2 separate regions of the Homo sapiens genome follow, and region 1 is linked to region 2. Evidence: fine-mapped expression QTL. A gene starts in region 2. The other region holds a variant in brackets. All regions are shown on one strand. Distances are between the middles of the regions.

The links. PIP is the estimated chance that this variant, and not a neighbour inherited with it, causes the effect.
Region 1: its variant is fine-mapped to the expression of FBXO32 in blood mononuclear cells (TOPMed, PIP above 0.99).

Annotation. Positions count from the first base shown.
Region 1 is chr8:123,513,075-123,521,074 of GRCh38, reverse strand. FBXO32 (F-box protein 32) reads left to right here. Exons shown (of 9, transcript NM_058229.4): 5 at 6,742-6,835; 6 at 7,693-7,877. Among named protein-coding and RNA genes, the nearest start is that of FBXO32, 24 kb to the left of the region's middle. The variant A/G (reference allele first, on the strand shown) is at 3,601.
Region 2 is chr8:123,536,946-123,546,977 of GRCh38, reverse strand. FBXO32 (F-box protein 32) reads left to right here and starts at 5,772. Exons shown (of 9, transcript NM_058229.4): 1 at 5,772-6,079. The coding sequence starts at 5,964. RefSeq lists silencers at 5,246-5,535, 5,626-5,735, 5,786-5,875.

The sequences.
Region 1 (8,000 bases), 25 kb after region 2:
CAACAGGGAGGTTTTTGCATAAGATGGCCAGGGAAGGGCCCTCTGAGCCCGGGGCAGGCCACGTTTGAACTGAGACCTGAGGGATGGGATGGAGCCGAGCATGTAAAGATGTGGCAGAGGCAAAGGCCCAGAGGTGAGAATAAGCTTGGCCTATTCGAGAGACGAATAACCTGTGTAGCCGGAGCAGAGTGAATTTGTGCAAAACTAGGCTGGAAAAGGGGTAGAAACCAGATCAGGGAGAACCTTGCCAGTCATGGTAAGGAGCTTGAGTTTTTTCCTAAGCGCAAGGAGAAGCCATTTGAGGATTTTAAGCAAAGAAGTAACGTGAACTGATGGATTTTTAAAACTATGAATGCTATGCTAAAATAAACTGTAGGGAAGAAGACGTAAGAAGCCTGCTCTTGATACGAGAGCAGTGAGATAAGAGGGAAATCTCTCTTCTGCCCATTCGTCTTGCACACACCACTTCAAACTTTGGTTGATATCCGCTCTGAGATTTGCTATACGATATTGCTTGCAACTAGATTTGTCTCCTATTCGTTGCCTCCAGAACTAGCATGAGCCAAAGCTGAAGGGCAGGATGTGGTTTCAGCATGCGGTGACCACCATCCCTCCCTCCAGTAGCTCAGAGCCATTCCTGGTACTGCACGGCTCGTCACTGCAGATCATGCCGGATGCCCAGAGTGCCCACACGATAATGACACCACGGAATTCCAGAGGAGCCGAGAAGCCTCCTCCTCCTTCCCCTTCCCTCCCCCTGCCTCTCTTTAAACATAGCCACAAATTACTAGCACCTGGGCTAAAATTTGCCCAGTCAAAAACAAGCAGCCACTTCCAAACAAGACATTTTCCTCTGTTCTTTTTTTCTCTTGTGGCTAGGGGCAAAGAATCCAATTGGCTAAGTCATCCTGGTACACAGATTGCTAGATACAAACCTACTTTCCTAGGCACGCAGCTCTCTTAACACAAATAAAATCGATAAATTTGGGCTGTGCGCGATGGCTTACGCCTGTAATCCCAACACTTTGGGAGGCCAAAGCAGGCAGATCACCTGAGGTCAGGAGCTCAGGACCAACCTGGCCAACATGGTGAAACTCGATCTCTACTAAAAATACAAAAATTATCCAGGTGTGGTGGCGGGTGCCTGTAATCCCAGCTACTCAGAAGGCTGAGGCAGGAGAATCATTTCAACCTGGGAGGTGGAGGTTGCAATGAGCCGAAATCACGCCATTACACTCCAGCCTGGGCAACAGAGCAAGACTCTGTCTCAAAAATTAAAAAATTTAAAAATCGGTAAATTCTGCTCTCTTCACTACTAGTTCCATACATCACTACCTAGTAGTAGCTCTGGGCCTATAGAGTGATGCTGATGTGGAAAGTAGACTCTGTGGTTTACCCAAAGCAGTTGCCTCATCCTAAATGTGCTGGTAGCACTTTCTGAGCATTACAGTGCCCTTAATATTAAAAGTTGTTTACCAGTCACAACATATTATTATATAAAATTTCTTTTTTTTTTTTTTTTTTGAGATGGAGTCTTGCTCTGTCGCCCAGGCTGGAGTGCAGTGGTGTGATCTCAGCTCACTGCAAGCTCTGCCTCCCGGGTTCACGCCATTCTCCTGCCTCAGCCTCCTGAGTAGCTGGGACTACAGGCACCCGCCACCGCATCCGGCTAATTTTTTGTATTTTTAGTAGAGATGGGGTTTCACCATTAGCCAGGATGGTCTCGATCTCCTCACCTCGTGATCCGCCTGCCTCAGTCTCCCCAAGTGCTGGGATTACAGGCGTGAGCCGCCACGCCCAGCCCAATATTATATAAAATTTTCTAGACTCTGTTTCCCCAGAACATAACAATAAATGGTATTGCTCCCATTTTGGAGTAAAATTTGGCCCTCCATGCAAATTGATTGGCCTTGACAAACTGAAGTCCTGAAACTGTCAGAATATATGTTCTGCCAGGCACAGTGGCTCATGCCTGTAATCCCAGCACTTTGCGAGGCTGAAACACGAGGATCGCTTGATCCCACAAGTTCGAGGCCAGCCTGGGTAACTAGGAAGACCCTGTCTCTACAAATAGAAATAAAAAAAATTAGCCAGGCATAGTGCTGTGCCCCTGTGGTCCCAGCTACTTGGGAGGCTGAGGTGGGAAGATAGCTTGAGCCTCGGAGGTAAAGGCTACAGTGAGCCATGACTGTGCCACTGCACTCCAGCCTAGGTGACAGAGTGAGACTTTGTCTCAACAAAAAAAAAAGAAAATGTGTTCTCTGTTAGACATATCTGGGCTCAAGTCCTGGCTCCAGCATTTGCTACTGCTGGTATGGCTTTAGGTGAGTACTTCTCTGAGCCTCAATATCCTCAATGGTTAAATGGAGAAGCTATCTCACTGGGTTGCTGTAAAAGATAAACAAGATTACAAATGTATAGTGCTTAGCTGCAGTTGCTGACACATAGTAAGCACCCCATTGTTATTGTTATTGTTAGCAAAATAAGACTCCATGGTAGAAAAACTATGCAAGTCATAAAATGTATCAGCATTAACTTTTATCAACAGATAGGGTGCTATTAAATGTATCACCAACATAGTAAAATGACAGAAAGGAATATTACAGTGTGAAAGCATTTATTTATTTGTTTGACAACAGCTACAATTGAAATACAGCAATTCTGAAGGTCTTTAAATGGGTTGCACTTTGCCCTGTTAACTCACTATTTCCTGATTGGCAATAATTTTACTTGGTAATGCTCTGTATTATGGTAAAAGCTAACAATAATAATTTATCGAGTATATTCTTTGTAGCAGGCACAGTTATGAGTGCTATGTGAATACATTTAATCTTCACAGCAACTTTGAAGTAGGTACTATTACTGTGCATATTTTGAAGATGGGAAAACTGAGGCAGACAGTTTGCCTCTGGAGCCCTCACTCTTAAACTCTTATGATATATACCAGAAACTGTGACATAGCCCAGGTGCCAAATCTGGCCCTCCACCTGCTTTTGTAAATAAAGTTTTATTGGAATACACCCATGCCCACTCATTTACACATTGTCTATAGCCATTTCGGTGCTATAGCTTCAGGGTGGAGTAGTTGCTACAGAGACCACGTGGCCCACAAACCTTAAAACACCTACTGTTTGGCACTTTGCAGAAAAAGTTTGCTAACCCCTGATGTCAACTTTAAACTTCACAAAAAGACTGGAGTTTAAAGGGAAAGAAATAATATCTTATAATAAAAATGCCTTATGTTTGGTATTTACTGTGGATTTGTACATATTTATCTTACTTAATTCTCATAGCAATCCTGTGAAGTAAGTAGTCTTTTTATTTCCATTTTAGAAATGAAGAATCAGGAGTTCAGAGGGATTAAATGACTTACACTCTAGGCTGAAGAGCAAACTCCATGAGTGTAGGGATCATGTGTCTTCATCATCATGTCCCTGTCACCTACCACGATGCTAGCACAGGGTGGACACTCAGAAAATACTTGCTAAATGAATGACAGTTACAAAGGTCACCCAGCTAGAGAATCCAGGTCTTCTCCTCTTCCAGGGTTCTTTCTCCTGACTCCACAGCTGTCTGACAGTTAAAAAAAAAAAAAAAGGT[A/G]GGGGGGACTTTCCCTTGAGATAGGATGAAGCACAGAATGGTTAACATGTCGTTATGCTGTCAGTTGACAAATTTTTGCTGCTATATTCCTCCTTCTCCTTAGAGAAGATAATCAGACCAAAGACAGTTCGTTTCTCCTCCAGTGCACAGTCATAGTGTTGAGAGTTTACTTGTCCTTGTGATTGGTGCATATTTTGACAAGATTAAAACTGACACCCTCATGAGATGGTAGTCACATGGAATCTGGGTTTTGGATGGATTTCAGGCAGAGCTCTGGCTGCCTTCCTCCCAACCCCTTGCCCCACCTCCTACCCAGTGATGAGTCACAGTGCACAGCTGACTGCCCTTCAAAAGCCGACCCGAGGCTTTTGTTTTCTTTCATCTGCTTCATGTTGGTCATGTGAGGATCAGGGTATTAATAGACCATCATCTTGGCCTTCCGAATCTTGCTGTTGGTCAGGGAGGTAAATGAAAGGTTTGGCCAGTCCCTTTGTGCCATTTTCACTCCTCTCTTGACTGTCACGTGCTGGTTGGTGGCAAAGCTAAACCACAGCATTCGGTGTGGTCACCGCCCATGGCCATGGTCTCTACTGGTGTTTTGATTTCCCGCCTCTTTCAGCAGACACTCGGTGAGCTCCTGACTTCCAACTAGATCACCAGTACTAATTGCAACAAACCACCTCCTCCTCCCAGTCAGCTAGCCTCATCTCTCCCTGCATGTGGAAAAGATACAGAAGCCAGGGAGAAAAAGGAGTTTGGTTTGGGGGTGGCTTTTTTTAATATGTAAAGTAAAATTACATTCAGGAAATTAAAAGTCTGTGTGTGGTTTAACAGGCTCCTAAAGAGCTCCACGGGGACAAACATGTTATGCAAATGCCATGGAAGCAGAGGTGCTCTGAATTGCCTAGGCCGTTGATCCAAAAGTTTCCATTCTCCTCTGCAACCCAATCTTTAAAATTTCATTTTGCTTCTTCCCTCAGCCTTGATTCCAGCACCCACCACAGTGTCATGCTCAGTGTTTATTGATCTGAAATGAAGCTGGGCTGAGGCCTGGCCAGGAGATGAAACTCTCTTAGAAAGTTTCCTAGGAGCGGAGATTCTAGCTTCAGTGTAAAGGAGGGGTCTCGGTTCTCTGTGTCTAGTCTACTGAGTCTCAGGCTAGTTATTACCACAATTACTTTTGCACCAGCCTAATAGTTTTCTCTGGGGGCCTGGTGGGTTCTCGTGAAGTTAATTACTTTCACTTTATATCAACCTCTTTTGTTTGTTAACTCTTTGAAAGCATGAAGTGTGATATTTTCCTGTGTTGAGAAGGACTCTGCTGAGTCCTCACTAGTTGTGGAGTGGCTCATAAGGTGGGTCTCTTGAGCCTCGCTTTGCTCATCTGTTAAGTGGATTAAACTAGATGGTCTCTTAAGATTCCTTCCAGTCTAAAGTTTCATTTTTCAACAATAGGATCTTTGTTTTTTATTTTTTATTTTTTAAGATGGAGTCTTGCTCTGTTGCCCAGGCGAGAGTTCAATGGCACGATCTCGGCTCACTGCAACCTCTGCCTCCTGGCTTCAAGCAATTCTCCTGCCTCAGCCTCCTGAGTAGCTGGGAGCACAGGCATGTGCCACCATGCCCGGCTAATTTTTTGTACTTTTAGTAGAGATGGAGTTTCACATGTTGGCCAGGCTGGTCTTGAACTCTTGACCTCGTGATCTACCTGCCTTGGCCTCCCAAAGTGCTGGGATTACACGCATGAGCCACCGCACCTGGCCTTTATTTGTTTTTTAATCTTGCCATGTCAGTAAAGAATTTTGCTATAGAAGGTAAAAAAGATTGGACTAAGTACGCACTAACTTCAGTTATTATCTTCATTTATTTTTGTCTGGCAATTATGGGGTTGGTAGGAATGGGACATACTTTTTCAACAAACAAACTGGCGGGGCGCGGTGGCTCATGCCTGTAATCCCAGCATTTTGGGAAGCCAAGGCAGGTGGATCACCTGAGGTCAGGAGTTCGAGAGCAGCCTGGCCAACGTGGCAAAACCCTGTCTCCAATAAAAATACAAAAAAAAAAAAAAACTGTTAGCCAGGCGTAGTGGCACATGCCTGTAATCCCAGCTACTCAGGAGGCTGAGGCAGGAGAATCACTTGAACCTGGGAGGCGGAGGTTGCAGTAAGCTGAGATTGCACCATTGCACTCCAGCCTGGGCAACAGAGCAAGATGCCGTCTCAAAAAACAAAACAAAGAAAACCCTTTATTTAGCACCTAATTAGTGCCAGGTACTTGCTGAGGGCTTTATGTGCATTCTCCTATTATCACTCACAACAACCTTGTATTATTGACTCTACCTTGTATTAAAGGTATTAAATACTCAACCTTGTATTAAAGACTCTAAATATTATTAGTATAGATGAACAAACTGGGTGGGGCACCAAGAAATATAGTAACTTGCCCATCATCACGGAGCTAATACATGTTCAAATCAAGACCTGAATCTAAGGCCAAGAGCTACAAGGATCCAAGTTTTTAGCCACAGTGACATCATATAAAATACATCCCTGAATTTCTCTCTCTTCCTGTGATTGGCGTCTTTCTACAGAAATGTAAGTGCAGTGAAAGAGTCTAATTAATAGACATGTTTATTGAACACTGCAGAAGCAGGAGGTATCAGGATAAGACTCTCCACTTCCATGGAAAAAGTGCACATGGCTGCTGAAGATGGGCTTTAGGTGCCTTGAGAGCAGTCAGTGCCAATAAGGAAGAAGTTCAAGCGGGGGCAGAAGAATTCCCCCGGGAGGTGATTCTGCAGAACTCAGCCATTCACAGGTCATGGGAGATTTTGTTCCCTTCAGGGTACGTCAGCTTCACTTGCTGAAGTAGGACAAGTAGATTGAATTAGCCCTGGCTGAAGCCAAAATTCTTTATATTTAAAAGAAGAAAAGCAATTAAATATTCAACCCAATCCTGGGTTTTGAATTACCCCATTTATCTTTCACTCTGAGCATCTGCTTTTTATTGCATTGTGGCCCTGCCTGCCATTTATCTCTCCCCGTCAGTCTGTATCCACGTGTCATGGGACTCAAAAGTGAAGATTAGAGGAGAAAAATATCTCTGTACTCTAAGCCTGGCAACTTCTATTTTTATCCTCAGCTGTTGGAGCTGATAGCAAAGTCACAGCTCACATCCCTGAGTGGCATCGCCCAAAAGAACTTCATGAATATTTTGGAAAAAGTGGTACTGAAAGGTGAGCCTTCTCTCACTCTCTCGCCCCTTTTTATAGGCATGGAGGTGGGCAGATGGATTTTCCAATGAAGTGGACGTGTCATTAGACTTAAAGACATGTGAATGGATGGAAATGAATAACTCCAGCTACATTTTAGAGACACTAAATTCCAGTTCGGAAAGGGGTACAACTCATCCTCATGGCAAAGGGTGAGACCATCACCCTCCTGTCCTTTCTTTGGGACCATCCACTTGCCCTACTATAAGCCTCGTAGGCTTCTCAGTGTAGACACAGGTCCCAACACTGGCTACCGAGCCTCCGGGTCCCAAATTCCTAGAAAATCGACATGTGTACAAAGTCAGAATAGATTCGTAGACTATTCGAGCTAGAAGGAACCTTAGGTCTCTGGTTCAACTGACTCATTGTACACATGGTGAAACTGAGGCCCATGAGGAGAAGTGATTTGTCCATAATCACACAGAGAGTCAGCCAGACAGGATTAGAACCCAGGCTCCAAACCCCTGAAACCATGCTCCTTCCACTGACTGTCCTAAACGGGGTCACTTCTGGGCAAAAGGAGTGGCTTTCTGATCAGGTGAACCATGGCTGCTGGGAGAACAATGAAAAGAGAAAGAGGCTTTATAGAAAATGAGAGAGAAGAGAACAAAGAGGGACCTAGATAATGGAAACTCTACCCTTTAACCTCAAGTGCAGAAGCTTGGCCAAGCGTACAATAAACACTGGTGAGGAAGAAAACCATATCCCCAGAGGCAGTGCCTGGGTAACATGAGTGGAATACAGACAGAGACAAGCTCATGTGTAAAATACAGGGTGTTCCAGTATCATAACTTTAATTATTTTTTTCTTCCCTACTCAAGTCCTTGAAGACCAGCAAAACATTAGACTAATAAGGGAACTACTCCAGACCCTCTACACATCCTTATGTACACTGGTCCAAAGAGTCGGCAAGTCTGTGCTGGTCGGGAACATTAACATGTGGGTGTATCGGATGGAGACGATTCTCCACTGGCAGCAGCAGCTGAACAACATTCAGATCACCAGGGTAAGCGGGCAGGCCCAGCCTCCTCCCGGCAGTGGGTCCCTCCACAGGGATACTGGACAGACTCGCCAAGACTTTGAATTCACTCCTGTGACGGAAGAGTCTGGTCTTTTCTGATCTGCTGCT
Region 2 (10,032 bases):
ATACATTCCTTGTGACCACACTAACAGGTTGAATTTAATACACTGAATTCCTCTAGCTCCTCCTTTATAAAATTCCCTCTAACTTCAACAGATTTAGTTGATTTCTGCTCCTGCCCTACCCGACAAGCTAAAGTTATTTTTAACTTACAACTACTGCTGATAAGTATTTTTCACCAAAAAAAAAAAACCCTTTCAGAAAGAGAAACTATGAAAAAACAAAATATCATTGCACTTCAGTGAGAAGTAGTCAGTCCCTCAGCCAAAGCTATAAACGAATGTCATTTTGGTTTAGAAGCAACAAAATGTTTTTTTCACAGTCCTTTCTACAAACAATTTCTGTAAACAGTCTTATGAGGAAGTGGACGGGCTAAATTTATGTTGTGTGTACCTTTGAAAATACAGTCTTCTAGCCAGGCACGGTGGCTCACCCCTGTAATCCCAGCATTTTGGGAGGCTGAGGCGGGTGGATCACGAGGTCAGGCATTCAAGACCAGCCTGGCCAAGATGGTGAAACCCCATCTCTACTAAAAATACAAAAAAAGGCCAGGTGCGGTGGCTCACGCCTGTAATCCCAGCACTTCAGGAGACCAAGGCGGGCGGATCACCTGAGGTCTGAGGTCAGAAGTTCGAGACCAGCCTGGCTAACATGGAGAAACCCCGTCTCTACTAAAAAAAGATAAAATAAAATACACAAATTAGCCAGGCATGGTGGCAGGTGCCTGTAATCCCAGCTACTCGGGAGGCTGAGGCAGGAGAATCGTTTGAACCCAGGAGGCAGAGGATGTAGTGAGCCGAGATCACGCCATCGCACTCCAGCCTGGGGGACAAGAGTGAGACTTCGTCTCAAAAAAATACAAAAAAATAGAAAAAAAATTAGCTGGGTGTGGTGGCAGGCACCTGTAATCCCAGCTACTCGGGAGGCTGAGGCAGAGAATTGCTTGGACTCCGGAGGCGGAAGTTGCAGTGAGCTGAGATCACACCACTGCACTCCAGCCTGGGCAACAGAGTGAGACTCCATCTCAGAAAAAAAAAAAGAAAAGAAAAGAAAAAGAAAATATAATCTTCCACATGTTCTACAGAATAAGGCCCATTTCCATAGTTCAAGTAAGATGCAAGGAATTATTTCATTATACTTGTACCCCAATAGACACATTTGTCCCACATCTGGAAATTTGCTGAGTGAGCTACGCTCCATGCCCTCAAAACTTACAGTTTGATGGGGAAGGTGGACATGGCTTAACCGAGTAAAAGATGGAGGTGTAAACTTTGCATAAAGATAATGACAATAAAGACCCATTGTCATTGGCACTGTTAGAAGTTCTTCATACATATTATCTCAATAAATCCTCAAAACACCCTTTGAGGTAGGTACTATCATTATTTCCATTTTACAAATAAAGGAAGTATGGTACAGAGATGTTAAGTAACTTGCCCAAGATCACACAGCTTTTTAGGTGGGGAATGTGATTTGAACCCAGTGAGTCTGGCTCTAGTCAGGGTTAGAGATAAGCCTGGGTACCAGTTGGAGTCCCACCACATTTGCTAGGTGATCTCACGCAGGCTATTCAACTTTTCTGAGCTGAAGTTTCCTCATCTATAAAATGGGAATAGCAATTCCTAGCCCACAGGTTTATGAGGAGTATGTAACAGGATTGTGTTTGTGAAGTGACTGGCACACTGTCCTCAGCATGGCAGGCATCTATCATCAATGGAATAGGACATTAAAACATATTTTTTCTAAGATACCACCTTTTGACTACCTTCCCCATCTGCCTCACTAACCCATAAAGCATCACTATTGGAGAATGCAGCTATACGAGGTAGGACTGGGGGCTGCCAACCCTCCCTTTGCTCCACCCTGCTATGTCCCTAGAAGTAATAAAATGTCAACAGGTAAAGACATGGGAATAACAGCCTTCCAGGTCAGTTCAACAACATTTGTTGATTTTTTTTTTTTTTTTTTTGAGAAGGAATCTCACTCTTATCACCCAGGCTGGAGTGCAGTGGCGCGATCTCAGCTCACTGCAACCTCCACCTCCCGGGTTCCAGCGATTCTCCTGCCCCAGCCTCCTGAGTAGTTGGGATTACAGGCACCCACCACCACGCCTGGCTAAATTTTATATTTTTAGTAGAGATGGCGTTTCACCATGTTGGCCAGGCTAGTCTCAAACTCCTGACCTCAGGTGATCCACCTGCCTCAGCCTCCCAAAGTGCTGAGATTACAGGTGTGAGCCACCGCGTTGGGCCCATTTGTTGATTTGTTGATGTAAATGTACCGTGTACCAAGAACCTTATTAGACACTGTGGCACTAAACTCCTAAGACACAGCCCTGCCATCAAGGAGCTCACAGTCCTAGACAGGAGAAGAAAACACAAAAAATCAAACACCCAGTATGTAATCTGGGTAATGTGTTATACAAAACAGTGCAGGAAAGGCAGTAGCTAAGTGTCTAAGCAATGAAACACACAGCCATGGTACATACATCATGTACACTGCACACACCATTAGGCTACATGGGGTCCTGACCAGTCTGTGCTGTGCCTTGTGAAATTCTCTGAGTATCTATCTGTCTCTATGTCTTCAGCCTGAAGCTATAACATTGATATTTTGCTTTTGGTGATTCTCAAATGCTCAGCTATGATAGGGCTTACAATCACAGAGTCTTTACAAAGTTCAAGCCCCCATCTGATTTGAAGGTAACTGTTCTGGACATAGCCTAGCAAGTTCTTTATCTTGAGGGGTCCAGCATTACAAAACTTCCCAGTAGAAACCATGTTTAAATAAGTGTCAGCTGAGCATGGTGGCTCATGCCTGTACTCCTAGTAGTTTGGGAGGCCAAGGCGGGAGGATCACTTGAGGCCAGAGTTTGAGACCAGCCCGAGCAACATAGCAAGACCCCATCTCTCCAAAAAAAAAATGTTTTAATCAACCAGGCATGGTGGTGCACGCCTGTTGTCTTAGCTGCTCAGGAGGCTGAGGCAGGAGAATCACTTGAGCTCAAGAGTTCAAGGCTGCAGTGAGCCATGATTGCACCGGTACACTCTAGCCTGGGTGATAGAGCAAGACTCTGTTTCAAAAAAAAAAAAGAAGTCTCAAATTAGATTTTTTTATGGTAAGAGAAATCTGAAATAGTCAATCACACTTCAGAAGAAGCCTGCATTAAGATATGATAGCAACAATTCTGTTTGTTTGTTTTAAGGAACAGAAAGCGGAAGGACTAGAGACAAACACTGAGGCTTCCTAAGATTAGTTATTAGACAAAAAGACAAGGACAAAAATAATTGTAATTTCCTATTTGTGCTTGAATTTTAGAAGTTAAAGAAACTTTCACCAACTTTGAGCCACTCAACCCTTTATAGTAGTCAGCTATCGACACAATAATGCTGTGTAACAGTAAATCACAAAAATCTCAGTGGCATCAACAAGACACATTTATTTCTTGCTAACACATCTGTGAGGTCAACGGGAGTGTCTGCTCCATGTGTCACATCCTGGGACACACGGATGTCACTCAAACCACTCCAGGAGCAGTGGCTACACAGGGTATGCTCTTTTCATGGAGCAGGTGAACACACAAAACATCAAGACCAACCAGGCAAGTACATACATCAGATCCTCTGCTCACATCACATCCATCAGCATCCCCTTGGCTAAAGCCAGTCATATGGCCAAGCCCATTGTCAAGAATTAGAAAAATACACATCACCAAAAAGTGTGGGCACATGACGCTACTGGAAAGGAGGGAAGAATGGGTACTAATAATTCAATCTACCACAGCTTTTAAACCATCCTGAAAGGTAGGCATTATTGGCTCCATTTTTTCTTGACAGTTAAGTAAATGGGGCCCTAAGAGTTTAAGTCATTCATCCAAGGGAGGACAGGTAGTATGCTGCTCCAGCAGAATTAGAATTCAAAACTTCTACCTTCTGGCCCTCTGTGGTCTCTACAGGTATGTAGCCAGCTTACTAATACATAACTAACCCACATTGTTCATAATCACATCCCAGGCGGGCATGGTGGCTCACGCCTGTAATCCCAACACTTTGGGAGGCCAAGGAAGGAGGATCACTTGAGCCCAGGAGTTTAAGACTAGCCTGGGCAAGATAGCAAAACCCTATCTCTACAAAAAATATAAAAAATTAGCCTGGTGCAGTGGTGAGTGCCTGTAGTCTCAGCTACTGGAGACTGGGGCCGAGGTGGGAGGATGGCTTGAGCTGGGGAGGCTGAGGCTACAGTGAGCCATGATCACTCACTCTAGCCTGAGTGACACAATGAGACCCTGTCTCAAAAATAATAATAATAATAATCACATCCCTTAATTATGCAGATACCAATTCCCTCCAACAGAGACCAGACCCAACACTGCCTCATTTGTTAGCACCATCACAGTGTTTAACATTTGTTTGGGACTTCTTCAATGTTTTTACAAGCTTTTTTTTTACTATTACTACACTAATAAATTATTTACGGTGGGAAATCTAAATCAGAAAGCTCTGGCTTCTTGAAAACAAACTTTATTAAAAACGTCTTCCCAGTCCAACATGTAGCCTCATAGGGCACACACAATTTCTTTGCCTGAGCCTTAAAGATTACACCGAGTCAGTGGACTAGATGATATTGATGGCTGCAGAGAAAGAAGAATGGAAGAATGAAGTTTGAAGCTAATGCTTGAGTATGGGATTTTTACTCTGCTGCTGCTGTCCTGTGCAAACTAATTGCCAAATAGACCAGGCTGTAAAGCATCATAACTAGAGGTGATGAAGGGCAAGAAGCCACCCTCATGCCAGCAGCCTCCCGTATCCATTCACTTATTCACACAAATAGTTGTTGAAGGCCTGCACTGGGCCTGGCAGGGTGCAGGGGCTGAAATGCCTCCGGAACAAGACAGACCAGCTCTCATGGAGTTCCCACTGCAGACAGGGGTAGATTGTTGTAACAACAGCAAAAAGTAAAAGCAAACAGGGTAGTTTCAGATTGTACTGTAGCATTGGCCCTGGGTACATCATTTAACCCGTCTCTTAGAGGGTTCGGGTAGGATAGGGGCGCTGTTCTTTTTCTCCACTCCCAACCTGCGGGAGCCAGATACCTCCCAGGGCTTCCTCTCCTTCCCCTCCTTTGCTGCCCCAGGGGCAGGTCTGAAGGAGGACTGGTTAGTGACAGCTAAGGGGCCCGGAGGGCTGGGAGGCTGTCCCTCCTCCCCGCTCCAACCCCCGCGCGCTAGGGCGGGGTTGGGGCAGTGAGCGAGGTCAGGAGGCTGCGCCCCCTACTCCCCGCCCGGCGGGCGCGGTGCCGGCCCCAGCTCTGCGGACGGCCCGGGAGGCTGATCTGGCTGCGGAGGTCGATCCTGATAGCTCGGGGGCAGGAGGGGGGCTGGCCCTGCTCCTCACGCCCACCCCGCAGGGACCCAGACGCCCCTCCGGCCCCCTCCCTGCACCCCGTCAGCCCGGGAGCTGCAGGAGACCGGGGCGCATCTTTCCAAGCGCCGGGCCTCGCTCTGGGACAACGGTGTCCTGGGGGCGGGGAGGGCGCGCGGAGGTGCCAGGGGCGGCGGGGTACCCGGCCCGGCAGCACCGCTTCAAGTTTCCACCGGCGCGGTTGTGCAACCGGGAGGGGAGCGTGAGCCGCAGGCGCCTCGGAAAACAAGCCGAGCCCATAAACAAAGCCACGTGGCCTCCGGGCCGGGGGGCCGGGCTAAGAGCGGGCGGCTCTTCCGGCAACAAAGAGCTGCGGCCGGCTGCGGGGATAAATACTGCGGCAGCTACTGCCGCGCAGCACTCCCGGAGCCTGCAACGCTTGAGATCCTCTCCGCGCCCGCCACCCCGCAGGGTGCCCCGCGCCGTTCCCGCCGCCCCGCCGCCCCCGTCGCGGGCCCCTGCACCCCGAGCATCCGCCCCGGGTGGCACGTCCCCGAGCCCACCAGGCCGGCCCCGTCTCCCCATCCGTCTAGTCCGCTCGCGGTGCCATGCCATTCCTCGGGCAGGACTGGCGGTCCCCCGGGCAGAACTGGGTGAAGACGGCCGACGGCTGGAAGCGCTTCCTGGATGAGAAGAGCGGCAGTTTCGTGAGCGACCTCAGCAGGTGAGGGGACCCGCTACCAACTTCCAGCCCCCGCGAAACTGACCCGGGCTGGTCTGGGGGGCGCAGGGACGGCGAATGAGGGGCAGGCAGGGCTGGAGCGGGCTGAGGAGGGAGACCCTGACCCGGAGGGTGGGACTACGGGGCCCGATTTCTGCAGAGGTCTTCGGACCACCGGAGACAGGGAATTCGGTTTCTCTTATTGTTCAAGGTCAGTGTCTCCAAGTGGACACGACTCCTTACAGAACACCTGGTCCCTCTGAGAGTCTGATGACATTCGCGGATCGTGTCCCCAAACGTTCGCTCAAACTTAATCACACAGCTTTAGTGGTCCCTGCTTTAAGGACACCGGAGTCGCGCACTTTGCCCATGTGGGGGCGCGGGCGGGTGGGCTGAGCCCCTTCACCGCGGGGTGGCCCGGCTCCCAGCGCCCAAGCGCTGTGGACGCGACAGGTGACGGGATCCGACGAAGGTCCCGCCTGGAGCGCTTCCAGGCCCTGCCCAGGCACGGGCAACCACGAAGTGGCCGGGAGGATGAGTAACCAGGAAGGGACGGCCAGATGGTCCCTGGGGCAGCCGCTTACTGGGCGGACTTGCGAGCGGTGGAGGCTTGGGGCTGCAGAGGTGCAAAGGAGGGAAGGGGGCAGGGGATGAATCCCACAAGAGCTCTGCTTCTGGGAGGACAGGGCTCTTGCACCTGTTTCCTCGGTGGCCCTCTCGGTCGGTCTGCTTTGTATAGAGTGCACTCCGTTTCCAGGGGTGCCTGTCAGCTGCGAAAAGCCTGCCTGGCCCCGGTGAGCCTCTGGATTCGAGGCCTCACCTGAGCTCTGTGGTCTGGCGGGAAACCTGAGGTCCGCTGCGCTCCCTGCTCAGCTTGGCTAACGATGCCAGCGCCGGCTAGTACGCAAGGTAGCCTGGAATTTCTCAGCCCCTGACCTCGACAGTTGACTTTCAGAGACTCTCAGCATTTAGCCCGGTGAGCGGGGGCGATGAAAGTGATTCCAGAATGGACTGGTGCAGCCAGAGTCACCCTTGGGAGCCTTTTCCTGCCACCTTTGGTTAAAACCATGGGCCCCTGCACCCTTAAATTGACTTCAATGGAGAATTCTGTTTCTGGGCCAGGTTCCCGCTTACTGAGATTTACCAGTCGTTGCTTGGATGAAGCATTGGCAATAAATTTTGAGAAAACTATCAAGAAAATGTGGTTATTTTGGCAACTTGAACTCCCGTGCCTCCCATTTGTTTGTGATTTGTAATGCATCAAATTCCCATTGTCTCACAATGTAAAGAAAGACATTATTTAATTCTGGGGGTCTGTCCGGAGAGACTTGAGCGTATTAACCACCAGCATATAACCATTTACGTTGGAGTTACTTGGAGGCTGTCCCAGGGGAGTTTAGGGACCACCATAAGGAAATCTTATTTACGTAAAATCAAGTAATTTATTTACGGGAAAGTAAGACCAACTGCTATTGACAGACTATGTCTTTTATCGACTGGAGTTACCAATTATGCCTAAATTATTCTCCCTCAACAAAATGGGAACCTTCCTTCCTTCCTCCTTGTTCCTAAGGACAATGATCTAATATGTTGGTACTTTATTTCTGTATACAAGTTCAGGTTCTTTCTAGAAAAGTGCCGAAAGGGTCTGAAGAGTCATGTTAGAGCTGCTCACCCAAATATAATTGCAGGATGCTCCTCAGTGGAGAACAGATGATTGAGTTCAGCAGAAGATTTAAAATGTAGGGTCGTATTAATACTTACCCTACTCGGGAGGCTGAGGTGGGAGGATGGCTTGTGCTCAGAAGTTCAAGGCTGCAGCGAGTCATGACTGTGCCACTGCGCTCCAGCCTGGGCCACAGAGCGAGACCCTGTCTCTAAAAATAAATAAAAATTTAAAATTTGTTTTAAAATACCCTATACCGGCATCAGGAGAGAAACTGGTGTCACTCTCCTTTAGAAATAGTGGTATCTCTGTCTTCACAGTATGGAAGACCTGAAGATGGTCTTAACTTACCACAAAAGTTTAGACTGGGCTGGAATCAGGTGGTTTCCTGCACAGCCCCCCTCCCGTGTCCTGTTCATGAGCCTCTTTTTCTTCCCATTTCACACCTGAGCTGGAGCTGTCACATCCATCATCATTACCGCAAATAGTCATTGATATACTGACCACCTGTGGTCCTTTGAGTCAGCGTTTAGGAATCATTTGGTAGCCTCCTAGCAAAGCAGCTGGCTGTTTGTTTGCAGGGTATTTTTTTTTCCAGCAACTGTAAACAATCCCTTCCCTGCTTAGCATGAGAAGCCTGCAACTTCTTAAAAGCAGTTGGCCTTCTGTGGTCTGGGTTTGTCATCTCAAATATCCTCACTGTTTTTGGTCTTGGTGATGTTTCCCCGTGATGTCAGGTTTGGACTGCGTGCCTGCCTGCACAGGTGAAGCTGAATGCCTCTCCTGTTATGAGAAAACAAAAGGCAGGCCCTTAAGCGGGGAGGGACCGTGAAACAGAGAACTACAGAGACATGGTAGACTGACTTCTCTAATTCCACAGACCATTCTGCAAACGGCCCAAACAAGAGCCCGGGATGAAGGATGCATTTGGTGGTTTTCAGCCTGGGGTTATTGTTTCGTGTTGACCAAGTCTTGTCCACACAGCACACCTATTCTGGACTCAGCTGGCCATCTTCTCTGTGGTCTAGGACTCCAACCTTCTCCAGTGTAGAATGTTACAAATCCAGTCCCAGCCATGTGTCCAGGAGTGAGATCATGGGAGGATTTAAGATAAGCTTAAAGCAGGACCCCTTCTCAAAAATGTTGAAATTATATAAAATAGAAGGGGAATGGCAAGTGTTAAATATGCTGGGGCAGATTTAAAATGCAAGGAAAGAGCTTGGCGTGAATTGGGATGATCCAAGAATGCTTCAAGGAAGTGGTGGTTCAGGCACCCGCACAGCCTTCCTCAGCAACCACCCCCTCACCGCCCACCCCCAGGATGAGTAACCTAAGCTGTCTGAGCCTCTGCCACTCTTTTCTAAGCCTACACTTCTGTCATTGAAGACTGACTCAAATGTTACTTTACTGTATGGCTGAGGCTGGACCCGGAAGCAGGAAGTTTACCTTGGTGACTGGATAAAAATAATAGTTAAGATTTTATGAGTGCTTACTGTGTGCAAGGCACTGTTCTATGAGCGTTATACACTAGGCTGTTTGTTTCACCAGAGCATTCCGGGTGCTAGCCTTGTGAGTGTGGCGATCTAGAAATGCGTCAGTAAATTGGTGTAGAAATCTCTACTGGCTTTAATCAGGCTATATAACTACAATTAAACCTCTGGGGGCACGTCACAGCTTTCTTAAATGGTTTTTATTGCAAATGAAATGAGAAATAGGGCTTTATTTTTTTTTTCATTCCCTTCTTTATCTGCTGCCAAAACAGACTTATTTATGGTCTGATTTTGAATTTTTTCTACATTTTTAAAAAGTTGCCTTAAAGTATCTTGGTATGTGGTAATGTGGGGCTGTGCAGTGGATCTTTTTCTTATTCTAGGCCTGTGCCTATAAAAATCAAGATTAGTAAATAGTGACTACAAAATAGCGACTTGCTGGCTATTATTGAATTTAGTGAAGAAAGCAGCCTCGTTGAGATGGTTTTGCTTATTAAAAAAAAAAAAATCCTGTGCTCCAATTCCTAAATGGTGGTGGTTTTTCTTGTTAAAAATTTCAGTTGTAATTTTCCATTGGCTTTGCATTTTCTTGAAAAGGACACGATTGAACTCTCAAAATAGCCTCTAACTGAATATATTATTGCTTAAAAGAAAACTTATAAGTAGGCAACACAAATAAACCCCATAGCCCTTCTTTCCAGGCCCTTCCTCCGGAATCTAAAACCTAATACCAAGTGAAAATATAGGGTTTCTCTTTGGTTAAAACTTTTCTACATTCTACGGTGAGAGAACATCATCAA